Linked DNA regions of Homo sapiens: regions 1, 2 and 3 are each linked to region 4. The links come from fine-mapping of genetic effects on gene expression. A gene starts in region 4. Each other region holds a variant in brackets. All regions are shown on one strand. Distances are between the middles of the regions.

Region 1 (5,151 bases), 120 kb after region 4:
CACTGAGAGGTATACATGAATGTTCATGGTGGCATTATTCATAATATCCTAAAACTGGGGACCAGTCAAATGTCCACCAGCAGATAAACGAATAAACAAAATGAAAGTGGAACTTCCATATGATGAGTAATACTCAACATAAAAGGGAATGATTACTGATATGCAAAAATACAGATGAATCTCAAAATCACTATGCTGAGTGAAAGTAGTCAGGCACAAAAGGTCACATATTACATGCTTTCATTTATATAAAACTCTAGGAAAGAGATTTTTAGTGACCAAAAGCAAATCAGGGGTTGCTTGGGCCCAGAAGCAGAGGGAGGGAGGGACTACAAAGAGGTACAAAGAAAAAAAAAGGGCAGGGTGTCATATGTGAATTCTACATCCCTCAATAAAGCTGATTTTCTTTTTTTTTTTTTTTTTTTTGTTTTTAGGAGACTGAGTCTTGCTCTGTCGCCCAGGCTGGGGTGCAGTGGCACAATCTCAGCTCACTGCAACCTCTGCCTCCCAGGTTCAAATGATTCTCCTGCCTCAGCCTCCCGAGTAGCTGGGACTACAGGCGTGCACCACCACACCCGACTAATTTTTGTATTTTTAGTAGAGATGGGGTTTCACTATGTTGGCCAGGCTGGTCTCGAACTCCTGACCTCATGATCAGCCCACCTCAGCCTCCCAAAGTGCTGGGATTACAGGCATGAGCCACCGCGCCCAGCCAATAAAGTTGATTTTTAAAAAATGTTTCAGGCTCCTGCTTAACCCACAAACTTTAAAACATTAGGAGATCTGTTACTTTTTAGGTGAAATTGGAGAACACAGCCTTCTCTGGAGTCATTGGTATTTGAGGACTTGAAACAGGGAGTACTCATTTTCAGGGCACTTTCAAGATTGTAGAATATTTTGCACAGTATTTCCCTGAGGCAAACAAGATTTCAGTCTGTGAATAGGTTTCAGTGTTTGCTTTGGTTCTTTTCAACACAAGTTTACTCTAAAAAGTAAAGCTCTTTTCCCCCAAAAGTGAATAGTGCCATGACACATTACACTCTCCAAGGAGACTGGTCCTTTCGGCAGACACTCTTTGGAGAGCCACAGTCTCTTAGTCATAGTGACAACTTCTCCCATCCTCAATAATGGCCCTGCACTTATGTGCAGAGACGCCAGGTGGCCATCAGTAACACATGAACTTCCAGTTTCTCCTGCCCAGGAAAGATAATCATATTTACAGGGGTGATCCTTCACATATTCTAAAGCCACTCCTTTGCTGTGACTGCCTGATACTGTGGTATGTGGCTGAGCCACCGAGTGAGTGTAATTGGCTTAGCACGGTGCCAACAGAGCCAAGGTCACAGGCGGGTCAAGGTCAGGCGAGGGGAGGAGATGGGGAGATGGCCGCAGCACAATTTGACCCCTTTCACTGTTCATGTGTCAGCGCTGAAAGCAAACAGCAAATTAATTCCTCAAGTACTTGTATTGTCTAATTAGAAAGAAAATAGCAGTTTTGGGGGCCATAACTTCTGCCTAATTCCAAAGTTCTCAAGTCACTCATGAAGTGATAGTGGCAATGCATATTTATCCATGTTGCCCACGTTTGAACGTATGTTAAAGAATGAAAATCATAACTGTCATCCCCCAAAAGCTTTGAGAAACAGAAAACTCTTCATCCTTGAACCTGCCATCCTGAATGGTCCCTCTTTCTCTTCTGGAATGTAAGAGACTCCCTGCCTCTCGGGCTCTCCAGGGAAAACTGTGTGAGCCTGGAGTCCCTGATCACTGCACCGATCAGACTCCCCTTCCTCGGCAGCTCCTGGTCCTCCTGAGAAGCGCATTTGCATGGCCAGGACAAGGAGAATGAAGCAGGGCCGGTGGGGCTCTCTGCTCCCTCGGGACTAGCAGTGAGAATGCACACCCCGCAAGCACAAGGGTCCTCAGGTGCATGATGCAGCTGGACAGACCCCTCCTGGCAACAGCGTGAGTGCTTCATGAAGATCCGCCCCGGGGCAGGAGCCCAAGAGCCAAGAGCTGCCCAGATGAGGCTGTGACCATGCCAGGAGAACGACCTCTCATAGGTGCTCCATCTCAACAGTGTTTCTAATCAAAACATGAAAAAGGATTATAGATTGGGGAAGAAGAGTAATTCCAGACACACCGGCTCTGCTTTCCCCTCTCCCACAGGAAACTGGGATTTGCCAGTGTATGTCCTCTCTCTCTTTCTCTCTCTCACTCTCTCTCTCTGTCACTCTTTCTCTCCTTTGCTTTTCTGCTTTCTGTCTCTTTCTCTCTGTCTCTGTCTTTCTCTCACTCTCTCACTTTGTCTCTCTGTGTCTCTCTCTCTGTCTCTCATTCTGCCTCGCTGCTCTGTCTCTGTCTCTTTCTGCCTCTCTCCCTCCCTTTCTTCTTCTTTCTTCTTTCTTCCTTCTTCTTCCTTCTTCTTCTTCCTCTTCTTCTTCTT[T/CTTT]CTTCTTCCTCTTTCTCTCTCTCTCTCTCTCTCTATCTCTCTCCCCCTCTCTCTCTCTTTGTTTCACTCTCCCACTCTCTGTCTCTTGAATCTTGGTGACTGCCTTAGATGGGGTGGGGTGGAATGCAGTAGAAGCGATGCTGTGTGGCCTCCAGAGCTGGATCACAGCAGGAGACACTCAAGTCAGCCTGGTCCTCTCGGTTCTCTCTCTCTCTCTCTCTCTCTCTCTCTCTCTCTCTCTCTCTCTCTCTCCCCACACCGCTATCTGCTTTTGACTCTTTCTCAGTGTCTTCCTCTCCCTCTCTCTCCATCTGCCTCTCTCTCTTCCTCTCTTCTTCCCTTCTTTCTTCTCTCTGCCTCTCTCTTTGACTCTTTCTCTCTCTCCTTCCCTCTCTGTCTCTTTCTTTTTCTCTCTCTCCCTCTCTCTTTCTCCTTGACTCTTCTATGTCACTCCCTCCCTCCCTTTATTTCTCCCTCTCTTCTTTATTTCTGTCTCTCTTTCTCTCTGTCTTCTCTCTGGGAACTGTAGGTTCCATTTAGACATGGACAGCTCAGATAAGGGGGTGTGGAAGAAAGTAATGAAAGGTCACAGAGGACTTGGAGCAGAACCAGCTTTGAAAGACCAAATTCCAGGCCTGAGAATGTCGCATTGTATTAGTGCAAGGTTGGTAACAAGAAATTAGCGCTGAAGGTTGAAAGAGTGGATGGGGGGAGATGGAGAAAAGGAAAATGCACATAGATGGTTTTCATACTTTTAACTTCTTTGCTTGACTTAAACATATTGTTTCCCTAAAGAGGAGTGCCCCCTTCCCTCAAAAAATAAAAGAAGTTTAGTGTTGGGCAGTCCCTTATTTTTGTGTGGCCTTGAGTGTGTGGACAGGATGAAAGTGCAGCTTTAATGACAAGGACTGGCCCTGGAATGCTGACAGGAATAATGACTGAGCAGCAACTTAGTTTTCCACATCAGAGCAGGATTTATATTCCATTCACCAACCCTCAGAGGAATTTCCCCTGTCTCTGATTTGGCCTTGTGAATTTTCCGGCTCATAATATCTCTAAGCAGAAGCAAATGTCTGGAGGGGGGAAGCCTGGTTGACAAAGAGAAGCAGCTCTTTGTCTCTCACTGCAGTTTTAAAAAACCCCACAGATTCCTAGTTTCATGGGCACGACTGCATTTTCATCAAAACCAGGGGCTGGGAACAGGGTGGGCGTTGAGTAGCTGGGTTCTTCCTTCAAAGAAGGTCCATTTAGGGACTTGGCTATGGCCGGGCAGTGGGGGACAAAACAGGCCTCACAAAAGTCCTTCCTGGGAGGAGAGACCAGAGATGAGCTAAGCTCAGTTCCTTGTTTCCTCTGGAACATTCCTCTGGAATGGCGACAGGGTGCTGCTTGAGGGGCAACTCACAGCTGGGCAGTGTGACCCTTGCCGTCCATGCCAGCGAAGCAATAACCTCTTCAGATGTCCCCAGCCAGTGCCCCGAGGATCCCATGCTGCAGCGGACACAGCGCTGGGCTGCAGGGGAGGGCTTGGTTCCCAGTGGCCTCACCCCCTAGAGGCCATCAGCATCGCACAGCTTCTCCACTTGGGGGTGACCACTGAGATCTGTGACTCCACCTGAAGGTAGAGAAATACATTTTTAAAATGACAAAATAGGCCAGGCAAGGTGGCTTACACCTGTAATGCCAGCACTTTCGGAAGCCAACTTGGGTGGATCACCTGAGGTCAGGAGTTTGAGACCACCCTGGCCAACATGGCGAAACACTGTCTCTACCAAAAATACAAAAATTATCCAGGCATAGTGGTGGGCACCTGTAACCCCAGCTACTCGGGCGGCTGAACAGGAGAATCGCTTGAACCTGGGAGGCGGAGGTTGCAGTGAGCCAAGATCACACCACTGCACTCTAGCCTGGGCAGCAGAGCAAGATTCCATCTCCAAAAATAAATGAATAAAATACGAATGACAAAATATCTATATTTAATTCATCATTATGATGATCGAACACTCATTAGTAGCTCCTGCTATGGATCATGCTCTTTGAAGGCAAAAAGTACAAAATATGGTCCCTGCCTCAAACTGCTTATGTGTGTTTGGAGAGGGGCTACGCACATTTAAAAAGGATGAAACAAATGGTAGCATCTTAGGGTTGCTCAACTCAAGTTATTCTTATTAGATGTGTATATACATATATACCTCCCAGTTTTGCATATATAAATAACATCTCACACTGGAAGTGAAGTGAGAGATTGGAAAGTCTTTCCCCAAGTCTTTCCCTAACTCTTTAAATAAGTTATTTGACAATATGAACTTTACTGGATTCTAAAATTCTGAATTCAGAAACACATGGACCTCTGGAAAAACTGAATTGGTCATCAGTAAAAATATGTTCCTGCCCTTGGGGAAACACTGAGGAAAATGAACCTTCGCTGGTACAAAAGGACAGGTGACCCTCTGGCTTCCAGCTGCTGTGCTGACCCAACAGCACAAGAGGAGCCACGGAGCCCACCCACTAACCAGGGCTGCTGCCTCCCCACGAGGGTTGGAAGCCAGAGCAAGTCCCTCGGGGTGCGACCCATGAGTAGGAAAAAATTATCTCATTCATGTTCTTTTTAACCAATGGATTTTGCATTGTATTGATTTAGGAATTCAACTGGGTTTAGAGGAAGAAGACTTTTTCCTGGATTCTTGAGGGTCTTCTGCCAAACA
Region 2 (5,151 bases), 150 kb after region 4:
AAACAAATAGATCAATGAGCCAGAAAAAGAGACCAAGAAACAGATCCTCACACACACATATTAACAACTGATTTTCAACAAAGGTGAAAGACAATTTAGTAAAGAAAAGATTGTCTTTTCAACAAATTGGATATCTATATACAAAAATAAAAATAATTTCAGTCTATACTTTGCACCATATAAAATAATCAATTATAAATAGATTACAAATATAAATGTAAGAGCTACAACTACAAACTCCTACAAGAAAACAGGAGGTTTTTTGGTGACCTTGTGTTAGGCAAAGATTTCTTAGATATTGTACAAAAAGCACAACCCTTAAAAAAACTATAAATGTAGCTTCATCAAAGAATCTTTTGTTTTCTGAAATATATTGTTAAGAGAATTAAAAAAATCAAACCCCAAACTGGAAAAAATATTCATAAAGCATATATCTGATGAAAAATCTTATCCAGAATATATTTAGAAACTCTTAAAACTCAACAATAAGAAAACAAACCATAAAAAAATTGACAGAAGATTAAGATGTTTCACCAAAGAATATTATATATATATATATATATATAATCAATAAGCACATGAAAAGTTGTTATTAGGAAAATGCAAATTAAAACTGCAATGAGGTATCATCACACATCTATTAGAATGATTGAATTAGACAGATTTATTTTGTCAAGTATTGGCCAGAACCTGAAGCAACTGTAACTCTCATACACTGCTGGTGGGAATGTAAAATGGCAAGACCACTCTGGAAACAGGTTTGGCAACTTCTTCAAAAGTGTAATAATAATAAAATAAAATAAAATAAAAAAAGTTAGTCATACACTTCTGATCCAAACATTTCACTTCTAGGTTCTTACCCAAAATAAATGAAAGCATATATCCATACAAAGATGTATTCACTATGTTCACAGCAACTTTATTTGTAATAGCCCCAAACTGGAAATAACCCAAATGTCTATGAACAGATGAATACTTCAGCAAAGTTGGCATTTCCATACAATGGAAAATTACTCAACTATAAAAAAACTTAACTATTGATACACTATATGACATTGATGCATTTCAAAATAATTATGATGAGAGAAAAAAAGCCAGATTAAAAAAATACATAGTATATAACTTAATATATATAATATTCTAGAATTTGCAAACTAATTTATAGTGAGAGGGAAAAAAAATTAGTGATTCCCTTGGGATATTGAGGTAAGTCAAAGAGGGGCCAAATACGAGGAATTAAAAAGGGTACAGGGAACCCTTTGGGGTAATGAATATCTTCATTATCTTAACTATGGTGATGGTTTCATGGGTGTATATGTTAAAAGTGTATATGTCAAAAACTTAAACTGAACACTTTAAATATACACAATTTATTTATTTATTGTATGCCAATGCTTTATTATACTTAGATAAAGCTGTTTTTTAAAGTCTATGAGATATGAATAGTTATTCCCAAAGTTAAGTTCATAGACTTAAATCTTTACATTGCTAAGTGAGAAATAATAAACTAATAAAAAATCTTCAGAAATAAGAAAAATAAGAAATAACAAAAAATGAAAAAAAGGAAAAAGTCAATACAGAAGAAGCAAGATTTTAAGAACCAGGAAACAATTAATAATAGAACTGACAAATCTCAGTGCTTGTTCATTATAGATCCCAGGATAGAGTTGCACCAACTGCCCAGGCTCATTAATAAACAAGGTAAGGGAAGGTATAAGCACACAAACTTAGCACTGTGTGCCGGGACATAGCCACAGGTACAAAGAAAGAAGAAGTATGACAGGACACAGTTATTGATTTAAACAGTTATTGATTTGTGCTAATAAATTTGAAAACTTGATTAAATAGGTGATTTTCTAGGAAAATATAAATCACAAAATTTGATTTTATAAGAGATTTTTTTAAAAAACCTAAAGAGACCAATAAAAGCAAAATAAATTGTGAAGATTCCTAAAGTGATATTGCCCAAATTGCCAAGCCCATATTTTTTCCCACTTTCAAAGAAAACATGATTCTGATGATATTTATACGGTTTGGAACTTATAAGGAAGATGGGAAGCATCCAAATTTCTACTATGAATGAACATAACAGTGATTACAATACTTGACAAACAAAATGGAAAAAATAAAACAGAGATTGGTAGTATTAATATCCCCATTTAACAGATGTTGAGAACTTTTTCCAAGTCACATATCCATTTGGAATAGAGTTGGTATTTGAATCCAAGTAAGGTAATTTCCAAACCCTGTTTCTCAACTACTACTCAGTAATAAAAACTAAAAGTATTTCCTGTAAAGTCAGATGAAAGATGGAGACACTTACTTATGCCCCTTGTATTGTCATAAATACTTAGTCAAAGCAATGAAGTGGAAGAAGAGATAAGACTAAAGTGGAAGAAAAAAGGTAATGAGTATAACTGGCTGATGTGACTCT[G/A]CGCCTAGAAAATTATGATGGCAGCTAGGCAGTCCAAAGTGGTTGGGCAAAAATAATAATGAGGATGATGGCAATAGGGGTATGATAGAAAACTTGAATAAATGGAAAACATGAGTTCATTATGCTTGGAAAAGAAGGCTTAAAACAATAATTCTGAAATTAGTAATGAATGCAATTCTAAAATTCCCCTGGCAAAATTATTCTAAAATTAACCAGTATAGGATTAGCCTGAAAATTTTTAAAGAAAAAAATGATGTGAGTCTAGTTATATCTGTTAAATACAATATATTATGATGCTAATAACATAGGACAATATAGTGTTGTACAGGAATAGACTGATAGAAAGTGGAACTAGTTCTGTTTTTGCCCAGCACCACAGTCTGCAAGCCCACCACAGTCTGCAAGCACAGTCTGCATGCCAAATGCATGTGAAAACTCCATAGATCAAAAATTGGTGTTTCAAATGAAAGTATACCTGTGTAGAAAAAGATAGCTTGTCATTTGAAAAATCACAAAAATGCTTATTCCTACCTTATTTCAAAAGACATTTCAGATAAATAAAAATATTAACTACAAAAAAAAAAGCCACAAGTGCACTATAAACCAAACAGGTAGATTTGTATAGATTTTTCCAAATTATGGAAATTCTTTCTAAATATGCTATAAATTCCAGACATCACAAAGGAAAAAATTGATTAATAAATTTGACTTTATAAAAATTTTCCAGCCAGGCACGGTGGCTCATGCCTGTAATTCCAGCACGTTGGGAGGCCGAGGTGGGTGGATCACTTGAGGTCAGGAGTTCGAGACCAGCCTGGCCAACATGGTGAAACCCCGTCTCTACTAAAAATACAAAAATTAGCCAGACGCAGTGGTGCGCAACTGTAATCCCAGCTACACGGGAGGCTGAGACATGAGAATCATCTGAACCCGGGAGGCGGAGGTTGCAGTGAGCTGAGATCATGCCACTACACTTCAGCCTGGGTGACAGAGCAAGACTCCATCTCAAAATAATAATAATAATAATAATTGCACAAAGTAACAAAGGAAGTAGACAAATGCCATACTATTTATTAGGAAGTAGAAATTAGTTGTATTTCATACAACAAAGACAGAATTTCTTAATATATAAAATGCTCATACAAATCAATAAGAAAAAGATAAACAATTCTATTGAACATAAACTACAAAGGACTTGAACAAGTAGTTCATAGAAAAAGAAATATCAATGATGGTATACACATGAACAGAGGCTCAACTTCATCACTAATGTTACTGCAAATGTAAACAATGATGAGATTCTATTTCTCGCCTATCAGATTAAAAGTTTAATATTGCCCAGTGTTGGCGAGAATGCGGGTAACATTTTCAATGAATATAAATTGGTGGCCGGGCATGGTGGCTCATGCCTGTAATACCAGCACTTTGGGAGGCCCAGGCAGATGGATCACGAGGTCAGGAATTCGAGACCAGCCTGGCCAACATGGTGAAATGCCGTCTCTACTAAAAATACAAAAATTAGCCGGGTGTGGTGGCAGGCACTTGTAATCCCAGCTACTCAGGAGGCTGTGGCAGAACAATTGCTTGAACCCAGGAGGCAGAGGTTGCAGTGAGCTGAGATCGCGCCACTGCACTCCAGCCTGGGTGACAGAGTGAGACTCTGTCTCAAAAAAGAAAAAAATGTATATCTTACAGAGATACACTATTGGCATGATTGTGCAAACACACACACACACAATTGTGGAACATATGTTAATTTCAGGAGGTATTACGTACTTATTTTCTCTAAATATGAAAATCGGTAGCATTTTGAAATGAAATTGAATATAAGTTGTCTGCATTCTTCTAAAGAAAAGTTTTGTATGTGTTAAAGTAATTTCTTATTTGCGTATAACCTGTTGACAGCTTCACTGGAGACTGGCAACTGTCAACCTCTCATGTGCTAACTAAGAAAACCACCAGAACTTCCTAGTCAGGCACAGAACACTATCTTTTTTTCCTGGGAAAAGAAAGATGCAGCATTTTATAAGTGCTTGCTGAGGGTACCCCAGACACAGGACTGCTTTTGTGAAACACTTGTGGGTATCCAGCAGCAGCTGTGTGGTCCCAGTGCTTGGAAATGAAAACCAGCACCCTCTCAGAGAAGGAGAATCAAATTTGTACTCCAGTAACATGCTGGCTTTCAGCAGCAAAGCCTTAGCTTTTTCTGGGAAGAGAACTCCTCAAGGCTGAGTTGATTACTAAGATAATCTAAGAGATCTGAGTCAGGTAGAGAGCCCCAGACACCCGAAATATGTAGGAAAACAAGAGAAACCTTTGACTATTTAGAGAAATTAAAATAAGCTTTCATTTTGGTTATTACTGTAAAGAAAAATGATTGGTGAAATGTGATACCTACCATTTTCAGAAGAGGTCAAAACAAGGGCCTATGGAATTTGCTGGAAGCCAGTTTTGCTTAGGCCTTGAATCCATGACCAATCATCTCAGGATTGTTGAATTTGTCAAATAAAGCAGGGCTCTGGCATTTGAAATGGATCTTGATCACATTTTCCACAGAATGAATTTCTGCTGTGATGAGCCTTTGTATGCTTCCTGGTAGCCCCGTCCACTGAGGCAGGCAACAGCGGGCTTCCTCGTCGATTATTTGTTAAGGGTGATTCAATGCTGAATGAAACATGACCCTTTTATTCCACATGTGAGGGATTACATCCTCACAC
Region 3 (5,151 bases), 71 kb after region 4:
AACTCAGGCTGCTGTGGTCCCCAAGATTAGCAACTGTGGTCAGCAGTGGGTGATGCCATGTGTACGACTATGTCTTAAAACCACCTTCAGACCAGAGATCCCACACTTCCTAATTTCCTAAAATTCTGTCACTGCATGGACCACATGTAGACAGGTATATAAGCATTTATAATCCAACGAGGGAGAGCACACTAAAAGACTGAAAAAAAAGAGAGAGAGAGAGAAAGAGAAAAGACCCATCCTGCTCTGAATTTTAGTGGGTGTTTTGTTGGAAGAAAGTGAAAATAAGAATAGACAGAAAAGGCAAAGGTAAGAAACCTAGAAAATAAAAAAAAATCTGAAAATCAGAGAAAGTTAAAAACATAAAGCAAAACCACACAGGAGAAAGAAGAAGAAAAGGGGAATAACCAAAGCAAATGAGAATATCTGAGAGACAAGAAAATCCTTTAGGCACAGCTAAAAATAGAAAAAGTAGCTCTTTTTATACATCTTCATTTAGGAGATTATCTGAACACTGAGATTTGAGGCATCTGACTTTGAGGTATCATGTGTACATAAAAGTAATCAAATGAGCCATTTAAGCATGTTTCCTTGAAATAAAATGTTAGTTTTCAGTTCTTCCTTTGAGTTGACGAAAGATATGCATTCTCATAGAGCCCCACTTTATTATTTTAGTATAAGATTGGAAAAAGCATATTATATGTTTAGTAAATTGGATTCAAATGAGACAATGTATCAGAAAATGGAATTTTTAATTTGGTTTTAAAATGTTCCTATTTAAGAGATGGTCAAACAGGTGTGAGACAGAAGAAAAGAACATCAAAGCGGGTGGGGCCAACGAACCCTCACGTCTCTGCAGATGGAAACAAGGCCGTGGTTATTGCGGTCTCACGTGCTGTGCATCTTCAGGGCTCTCGCTTGTGAACTTTCTGGCCTATAACATTGCAGCTAAACCTCAAAGATCAAGGCTCAGGCACTGTGTTTGCCTGGAGGTCGTTTACTGCTTCCACCCAGTCAGCTCTTGTGGTTCATTAGTTTTGCTGCAGCAGCGGAGAGGGAAGGAGTTTGACTGTGCAAATGGTGCCCGCAGAGCCTCCAGGCACACACAGGGCAGATCCTTTCTAGAATTTTTTATAGCTTGCATCATTCAATAGCTCCAGGCTGTCCCCAAGCCCCATCTTTCGGGTTTGATGGGTTGAATTGTGTCCTTTCAGAATTCATAGGCTGAAGTCCTAACCTGTATCCACACCCTTCTTCCTTTCACTTGTGTGTGTATCATTTTCTGGATATTTGTAAATGTTTAGGCTCCTAGGCCCTCCCCATGCCCACTAATCCCTAGCTGGCCCCTCAAACAGGTGGCAGATGCTGTTACAATGCCCATTGTGCTTAGTACATCGGTGGGCCTGGATGATCTGAGGCCATCAGTCCGTGGTCACTTTGGGGGTTCAATGTTAACTTTGGTGCTGAAAACACAGTTTGCAGACCTTCAGCACAGGGATCGCCCGGGAGCCTTTTAGATATGCAGAATCTTAGGTCCCACCCCAGACCCACTGAATAAGACTCTGCATTTTAACAAGATGCTGGAGTATTTCACATGCACTGTCCTTAGACCATGTGAGGGACTAAGTTCCTAAGCAGCCAGTCTCCTATTATGCCACCCAAAGGAGAACTCTTTGCTCTAATAAAGCAACTGAATTCCACAGAATCTCTAGAGTCTTGAGGCTATTTTCTTCCTATTAAAAACTATTATCAAATTTTGATCCTTACATTATCACCCTCCTCTGCATCATCATTTTCTGATTCATACAAATAAACTTTGCAGTGGAGTAGACCCTACAGTTGGGAAGTTGGCTCCAGCACATCTGCTAAGAATTTGCTGGGAATGTATACCTTCCCAATAACATTCCTCTTTTGCTGCTGATGAAAGTTCTACACCTTTCAGATGTGTGTGTGTGTGTGTGTGTGTGTGTGTGTGTGTGTAGAAGGTTAATTGATGCTTTTTAAAAATGTGGCCCATTTGAAGCTTTGAAAAGACATGCTCCTTTTCCCACTAAAGTGATGGCCAACCTATCTCTGCCATCTCAGA[G/T]ACTGGCTCCCTGTGACACTTGCAGAATTATTCCACTGTGTCCCTCCTTCTGCCAGACACAACCAGCCACCTTTCCCTCTTGAATCTTTGGACTTACCTTCCAGTGGCTGAAAGGGCCAAGCTTACGTGTGTTCCTAGGAACAGTCTGCCTACAAGTTATCACCTCCATACCCCAAGAATGAGCATCTGCTCCTTAAGCTCCCCCATCCAAGACACTGGAAATTTCTTCAATGCAGGGAAAAACATTTTACTTCATTATTAGGAGATGGACTTGAAATCAAGGTAGACCTGTGGTACACTGACAGGCCCCACCAGGTGGAGGTAATGAGATGCTGGAAAGCAGGGCTGGGTCTTTGGAAACAGGAATACCAGGATATGGGGCCTCCAGCAATGCATGAGGAGGTGAAGCTAAGGGTGTCAAGTTCAGCCTCACCAATTTCTTAACTGTACTGGAGCATTTTGGACTGTTCTAACATGGGATTTCTCTTTGTCAGTTAGGAGAGGAGTGGCCCTCTTCTCAGCAATGCCTTCCTGTCAGGGTGGTCTATTCATGAGTCACAGCCTTAAGTGAGGTCAGGTCACTTGCTGGCCCTTCATCCTCCACATAGGACTTTGGCAGACCCTTATCCCTTCCCAGCCCAGGTTTCTTGATCAATGGTACACATGATCACACCTGCCATGGGGTTTATAACTGGTAGAACAACTCTGATGAAAATGTCTGGACTTTTCAAAACACACCAGCTTTATTCCAGGATGGCCCCAGAATTTCCCAGAGATCCAAACAGAATCCTGGAAATCTGTTAAGCTTTGGATGCCCAGGACTGCACAGGTTTCTTAGTAGCATGAGAACAAGGAGAGCATGGTTCATGAGGTGAAAAAAATGCAAGAAATAAGGCTTAGAAATAAAAATAATGCAAGCAACCATTTCTGAAAGACTAGATGTACTCTGGAGATGGCCTGCTCTGTACAAACACATTCATAAAGTATTGCAGAACTTGGCAGTGGGTGCCATCTATGAAGCTCCTGAGTGTCAGTCTTTTCCTCTATATAATGGGGATATTAACATCACTTGGATTTAATGATTTGGTGCCACCACCAACACTGATATGATTTGCTGTGTCCCCACCCAAATCTCATCTAGAATTTTAGCTTCCACAATTCCCACATGTTGTGGGAGGGACCCAGTAAGAGGTAACTGAATCATGGGGGTAAGTTTTTCCTGTGTTGTTCTTGTGATAGTGAATAAGTTTCACAAGATTTGATGGTTTTATAAGGGGAGATATCTCTGCACAAGCTCTCTCTCTTTGCTTGCTGCCATCCATGAAAGACATGACTTGCTCCTCCTTGCCATCCACCATGATTGTGAGTCCTCCCCAGCCACAAGGAACTGTGGGTCCATTAAACCTCTTTCTTTTGTAAATTGCCCAGTCTCAGGTATGTCTTTATCAGCAGCATGAAAACGGACTAATACAGTAAATTGGTACCAGTAGACCAGGGTGCTGCTAAAAAGATACCCAAAAATGTGGAAGCAACTTTGTAACTGGGTAACAGGCAGAGATTGGAACAGTTTGGAGGGCTCAGAAGAAGACAGGAAAATGTGGGAAAGTTTGGAACTTCCTAGACACTTGTTGAATGGTTTTGACAAAAATGCTGATAATGATGTGGACAATGAAATCCAGGCTGAGGTGGTCTTAGATGGAGATAAGGAACTTGTTGGGAACTGGAGTAAAGATGACTCTTGTTATGTTTTAGCAAAGTGACTGGAGGTATTTTGCCCCTGCCCTAGAGATTTGTGGAACTTTGAACTTGAGAAAGATGATTTAGGGAATCTGGCAGAAGAAATTTCTAAGCAACAAAGCACTCAAGAGGTGACTTGAGTGCTGTTAAAGGCACTCAGTTTTATAAGGGAAGCAGAGCATAAAAGTTTGGAAAAATTGCAGCCTGACAATGTGTAGAAAAGGAAATCCCATTTTCTGAGGACAAATTTAAGCTGGCTGCAGAAATTTGGGTAAATAATGAGAGGCTGAATATTAATCCCCAAGACAATGGGGAAAATGTTTCCAGGGCATGTCAGAGGGCTTCACAGCAGCCCCTCCTATCACAGGCCTAGAGGACTAGGAGGAAAAAGTGGTTTAATGGGCTGGGACCAGGGTGCCCTTGCTCTGTGCAGCCTAGGGACTAGGTGCCCTGCATCTCACTCACTCCAGCCATGGCTAGAAGGGCCCAAGGTATAACTCAGGCCATTGCTTCAGAGGGTGCAAGCCCCAAGCCTTGGCAGCTTCCACATGGCATTGAGCCTGTGAGTGCATGGAAGTCAAGAATTGAGGTTTGGGAACCTCCACCCAGATTTCAGATGATGAATGGAAACACCTGGATGCCCTGGCAGAAGTTTGCTGCAGGGGTGGGGCCCTCATGGAGAACCTCTGCTAGGGCAGTACAGAAAGGAAATGTGGGGTCACAGCTCCCACACAGAGTCCCTACTGGGGCACTGCCTAGTGGAGCTTTGAGACGAGGGCCACTATCCTTCAGTCCCCAGAATGGTAGCTCCACCAACAGCTTGCACCATGCACCTGGAAAAGCTGCAAACACTCAACACCATCCCATGAAAGCAGCCAGGAGGGAGATATATACCCTGCAAAGCCACAGGGCAGAGCTTCCTAAGACCATGGGAACACACCTCTTGCATCAACATGACCTGGATGTGAGACATGGAGTCAAAGGAAATTATTTTGGAGCTCTAAGATTTGACTGCACCACTGGATTTTTGGGTGGGTGTCTCCCTCTCTCTGTGCAGTCCTGGCTTCTTCCTCTAGATGAATCTTCTCTTCATTGTCTCTCTGCAGGGTGTCTCCACCAGGGAGCTGTGCTTTATACAGCATGGTTCAGGGACCCCCAAAAGCACATGGCTTGGGCTGCCAGGTCTTCCTAGGGTTTATTCTGGAAGTAGCACTACATTATTTCTGCCACCTTCCATTGAAAACAGGTCCCAAGCCCAGCCCAGATTCAAAGAGAGGGGATCACCCAAAGGCTCGGATCCTGAGAGGGGTGGCCATTGGGGACATGAG
Region 4 (5,151 bases):
TACCGGAGATCCTTCCTATCCCTTCCCAAAGCGGCAGTCTCACCTGGTGACTCGGCATGCGTGCCACCTTGCACCATGGACATAGCACACATGGCCTCATGGCAGCATCTGCCTTCTGAATGTACACAGGAGGAGACCGAGGCTGGGGGAGGGGGGGTGTCACTTGTCCTTAGTCACAGAGCTGGGAAGGGGCTGGGCCGGTGTCCGTGCCATCTGATTCCAGGATGTCACATTAGGGATGAGCTCTTTGGGAGGCTGCCACCTTGCCACTGGTTCTTTGCCTAGGTAGTGACAAGAGATTCTCTGGCATGTTTTAGAGACAAACTGCCTCATGCTCCCATGCCAGCAGAATGTTAGCATGTCATTCTGGGGGCACTGAAATATCTGGAAAATTTTGAAGCCAGGAAAATGGAGCGGCATCTGCAAGGCCGAAGAGCACCATCCACTGCTTGAGGAGCGGACCGTCACCTCGCTGTGTGAGCTGACCCCAGTCCGGCCTGTGAGCAGTGAAGATCCACTCACTGGGCACCAATCTGCACTGGACAATCTCGTCACTGATTTAACCCAACTGGCCTATTGTCTCTTACAGACACAGCTTCAATGCCTCAAAAATAGGATTCAAAAAAGGGAAGGAGACTTTATGCCCAGTAGCTATAACAGTAACATCAACTGAAACATGTTATTAACTGAAACTAGATACGATTCCACTCAGTCTATTCTTTTTCTTTTTTCTCAAACATTATACATTTCCAAAAGCTTAAGGAAAATCTTAAGGCAATTAATTTGGCAGAAAACATATGGCAGAGGAATAATAGGAAATGCCTCCAAAACTGATAAGAAAGGAATTACAAAGCCAAATATGAAGAAACAGAAAGTTTCATAGAACCCACAGCACAGCACCCTGGTTCCAGCTAAGGTAAACAGACTGCATAAGGCTGGCGGCCTGGCTCTGGTAACACTTGGGAAACAGTACAAAGTCCTGGCAGTTAAAGGGTTCTACAGCAGGGCAACCTCAGATTTTTCAAGATTGTGGCATGCTCAAATTCTCCTTTTTTTGGTAATAAAAATATACCTACAGTATATAATAAAAATATACATACAGCACAGGCATTGAGGAAGATGAAAGAGATACCATGAAATCAAGTTAATGTCATAATTTCCAGAAAGAGGAAACCAGTTCCTGAATTTTGAGAAATAAGATCCTTCGGCCACTATGTGAAGTTTCTTCTATAGGAAACTGTAGTCTCTACCCTTTGTATATGGTAGAAAATCAGAGACTCATGCATTTGAATAAAAATCACAATGATAAAGGGAGAAATGGCACTTTCAAAGATGAAAACTGGTTGAGAAATCATTCTCTCTAAATCTTAGGGGGAGGCTCTTAAGGGCTAGCTTCAGTTTGTATCTCTGGTGTTAGGTGATGGAAGTGATTTCAGAGGCCCAAAGTGAGTGCTTACTGGTTTGCTAATGAAAAAAGCCTGACGTGCGGTTCTTCTTCTATGGCAACAAAGTTATTCAACCTAGCATTAAGGTCTGCATCCATGAAATAATACTTTACAGATATGAACACTTCCACAACTCCTCAAGCGCACACACACACACACACACACATGCCCCGCACCATCACCACCTCCTCAACCAACACCAGCCCTGGGCATGGCCAGCTATCCTTGTTAGTCATGTATCTGCAGAGCATAATCCTTCCCTTGTACTTTCTAGGAATTATATTTTTCTTAACTATGCCTGCAAGATTTTCATCTATGAATAAAAAACATTGAAAAGATAAATTATGAATATGTGGTTATATACAAAGTCTGTGACTTCTAATGTCCAGATTTTAGAATGATGCCTAATTCTGGAGGTCTCAGAGGTCCAAGTGGGAGTGGGTACCATGAATGGGGGGGCCTCCATTTAAAAGTAACCTTCTAAAGAGCTCTCTGTTCCTGTAGCTCCCCTTTCCTTATTGGAAGGGTCAAAACGAAGTGTGTTCCCTTAAAAATCCAACAAGAAGTTCCTCTCTTATATCCAAATATAAAAACACCACAAAGAAATATACCATTGGGAGTGTCCAAAGCCAGAAAGTCAGAGGAAGAGAGAGAGAGAGAGAGAGAGAGAGACTGACTATTGGGAGACTCAAAAAGCCCAAAGCCCCTTCTCTAGCTGTTATCTCAGTTACGAACACAACGTACTGATTTTCCGTGGGAACCTCATTATTGCACTGTGGGGACTTCGTCTTCCAGCACCGATTCTGACGGCCCTAATTGCCTTGTTTGAGAAATGTTAGGAAAAAACTAATTTTCCGGCGAATATTGTTTAAAAGAATGATTTTCCCAGGCTAACGACCACAACCCTCTCCCACGTCCAGCATCCCCAGGCCCTGGCACTGTGGAAGCCTAACTTGTTAATTGTCCAAGGAAAACGACTGATGGAACTTCTCCACGAACAGCCTCTCCACTTTCATCCAGGTATTCAGCTCCAGCCCGTTGTAAACGCTCCGGGTGCGGTGGAAAAGGCCTCCTCCCTGTTCCTGCAGCGGCTCTGGGGGAGGGGTGCTGATGTGGAGCGCTCCGGCCGCCGTGGCGCGCCCAAGTCCCCGTCGCGCCCGGGATCGGTGGGGATTTTGTTGGAAAGGTGGGTCCTTCGGCCCCCAGCCCCCCACCCTGGTTCCGCGCCCCGCCCGGGCCCGCCTCTCACCTCCGTCGGCTGAGGGCGCTGGGGCCACCGGCATCCTAGCGGGTGGCGCGCGGCGGTGCCGGGGCGCCCGGTCCTGCGCTCGAATGCCAGATGGGCTGGGAGGCCCGGCAGTCTCAGCGCTCGCGACGTCGTTCCCGGGCCTGGGGTCCTGCTCGGTCGCGTCCTGCAGCCGCCTTCTGGTCCCTGAGTCCCTGTTGCCCGTCCCCGGAACCGGCTTCCTCGGCCTCTGCCCGAGCGAGTCAGAGACTAAACTTTTCCAGCGGCCCGCCGGGGCGGGACCCGCGCTCCGCCCCTCCCCTCGCCGCCCCCGACTCCCGCCCCTCTCCCCGCCCCCCTCTCCCCGTCCCCCGCCCGCGAACCCGGCACTCCTCCAGCTCCCCACCTCCCGCTCAAGCCGCCTGGTCTCCGTGCGCCCCGCCCGCCCCTAGCCTGGACCCCTTCTCCCCGACCCTACCAATCCCCTAGGGTCCGGCTCGCCCTTCGGCCCCTGTTCCCAGGCCGGCCTCCAGACCTTGTCCTCATCGGGCGAGCTCCAGGTGCAGAAACCGGGCGCCCAGAGACCCAGCGGGAACAGGCTTGGAACCAGGTCCGAGGTCTGGGCTTGGGCGGGCGCCTGTCGCCCTGACAGCGAGGGTTTGTTTGGGCCGATTCTTAATAGGAGGATTAATACTATCATTATCGTTGTCCAGATCCTGACCATTTCTTTTGTAACTGGCCGAGCACCGGCTTGGGCTTGCAGGTGGGCGCCTGGCGCCGGACAGCGTTTTTGTTTGGGCTTCTTCCTTTTCCGCGCGGGTCCCCTCCGGCGCCTGCCTGGTCCCTCTCCGCGCTCTACCCCCAGGCACGCAGAGACTTGGGCTCCAGGCGGGGGCAGCACTCTCCCCCAGCCTCTGCTGGTGCACCAGAGCCCACTCCGGCACAGAGCAGCGCCCCTCCTAGACCGGCAGCCAGCAGATCTCAGCCGACCCCCATGCGACCCCCTTCCTCACGCGGATTTGCCCCTTTTGTGTGGCAAAAATAATAATAATAATAATAAATCCATATGAAGGCTTCAAACAGAATTCCGAGAGAAGGAACTGCCAAATTTTCAATCAATGCCAAAGGCCATGATTGAGCGAACACAGAAACAACTGTAGAAGCTTGGGGAGAAAGGAGAAAATTAAAGAAAAAGGAGGAGGAGGAAAAGGAGAGAGGAGAGAAGCGGGAGGAAGAAGACGAAAAAGCAAGGAGAGGCCTGTTATCCGACCGTGCATTCCTGGGCCGGCAGGATTGGGCCGCAGGGGCCGCTGCAGAGAGTTGAGTTTGTGCAAAGGCCGCTCGTTACTTTCTGTCTTTTGCCCTCTTGCCTCCAGAGGATCAGCCCAGCGCATCCTTCTCTTGGAGCAGGGTGCATACGCTTATTTGGGGTGCAGTTTGAGCGGTGAAGGGCACCAAGAGTGGAAGTCGGCGGCACTCCTGTTCCCTGCAGAGAAACGCAAGCCCTCAGCAATTGAGCTGAAGGAGGCAAGTGACTCTGCCTGCTGAGGCTGCCAGCCCTAGAGGCTCTGGCCCCCGGGAGCTGGGGTACTTCCCAGCGTTTTCGCCTAAGCCACTTCGCCTGTGCTACTGTGGAGTCTTCCGGCACTGTAGCCTTCCAACTTGTTCAAAGTGCCTGGTGCACGGCTCTGAGAAGCCACTTCTGTCCCAAGTTTCATGTGGGCCTGAATGTGCTTCCCTTTGTTGGACTCCTACAGCATCAAGTCAAGAAAAGAAGGAAACATGCTCCTTTGGCATTGGTCACAACCAGGATAACAATACAGCATACTGTGGCCACTGTGTCTATATTACCAAAGTGGTCAGTAGGTTCATCACACCTCTGTTCAATTAGTTGCTTCCCGTGATGAAAAATTTACTGCTAGGATACTGGCTGAGGGTTGTTTTAAGGGGCACCCAAGTCTCCGTTCCTAGAGAAAGTCAGTTACCCTGATATAACAGAGCAACCTTGAGGCGTGGTGATGCCTCCAAAACTAGTCTGCGGAATCGGAGCCCAGAAGCCCTGAGGAGTAATGTGGCTCTCATGCTTTATGGCAGGTTTCCCTAAGAGAGACCCAGGATCTGACCCATGGCATCACTGAAATTCCTCTTTCAGTGAGGCTCCGTTTGCCTAAAGATCCCTGTCCTCAGTGGGTCTCCCCACACACGGGCCTCTCACTCACCCACTGCCCCACCCCCATCTGCTGCCCTCTTCCTGGGCCTTAAAGCTCAGACACTAGACTCTGACAAGGAGCCCTCCATGCCCCGGTAGAGACCATCTTCTCTCACCACTCCTTTTGAGAGAAACAGCCCTCCCTACAATTCTGTTGAATAAGTCTCCTCCTCTGCATCCTGTTTCACAAGTGAAAGCAGTTTAACAGAAGAATGCCAGCTCATAAACGTAGAAATGCGAGAATGAGGAAATCCCCATTCTGTAACCCTTAA

Evidence for each region. PIP is the estimated chance that this variant, and not a neighbour inherited with it, causes the effect. A credible set is the group of variants that fine-mapping cannot tell apart.
Region 1: its variant is the best candidate, but not a certain one, in a credible set for the expression of S1PR3 in whole blood (INTERVAL, PIP 0.51).
Region 2: its variant is the best candidate, but not a certain one, in a credible set for the expression of S1PR3 in whole blood (INTERVAL, PIP 0.64).
Region 3: its variant is the best candidate, but not a certain one, in a credible set for the expression of S1PR3 in whole blood (TOPMed, PIP 0.75).

What each region holds. Positions count from the first base shown.
Region 1 is chr9:88,870,625-88,875,775 of GRCh38, reverse strand. All of the region lies in intron 1 of LOC124902205 (a long non-coding RNA gene), which reads right to left. Among named protein-coding and RNA genes, the nearest start is that of S1PR3, 120 kb to the left of the region's middle. The variant T/CTTT (reference allele first, on the strand shown) is at 2,447.
Region 2 is chr9:88,839,482-88,844,632 of GRCh38, reverse strand. No RefSeq gene overlaps it. Among named protein-coding and RNA genes, the nearest start is that of MIR4289, 96 kb to the right of the region's middle. The variant G/A (reference allele first, on the strand shown) is at 2,435.
Region 3 is chr9:88,918,095-88,923,245 of GRCh38, reverse strand. All of the region lies in intron 3 of LOC124902205 (a long non-coding RNA gene), which reads right to left. Among named protein-coding and RNA genes, the nearest start is that of S1PR3, 71 kb to the left of the region's middle. The variant G/T (reference allele first, on the strand shown) is at 2,087.
Region 4 is chr9:88,989,239-88,994,389 of GRCh38, reverse strand. It overlaps S1PR3 (sphingosine-1-phosphate receptor 3), which reads right to left and starts at 2,922. Exons shown (of 2, transcript NM_005226.4): 1 at 2,695-2,922. RefSeq lists a silencer at 3,082-3,376.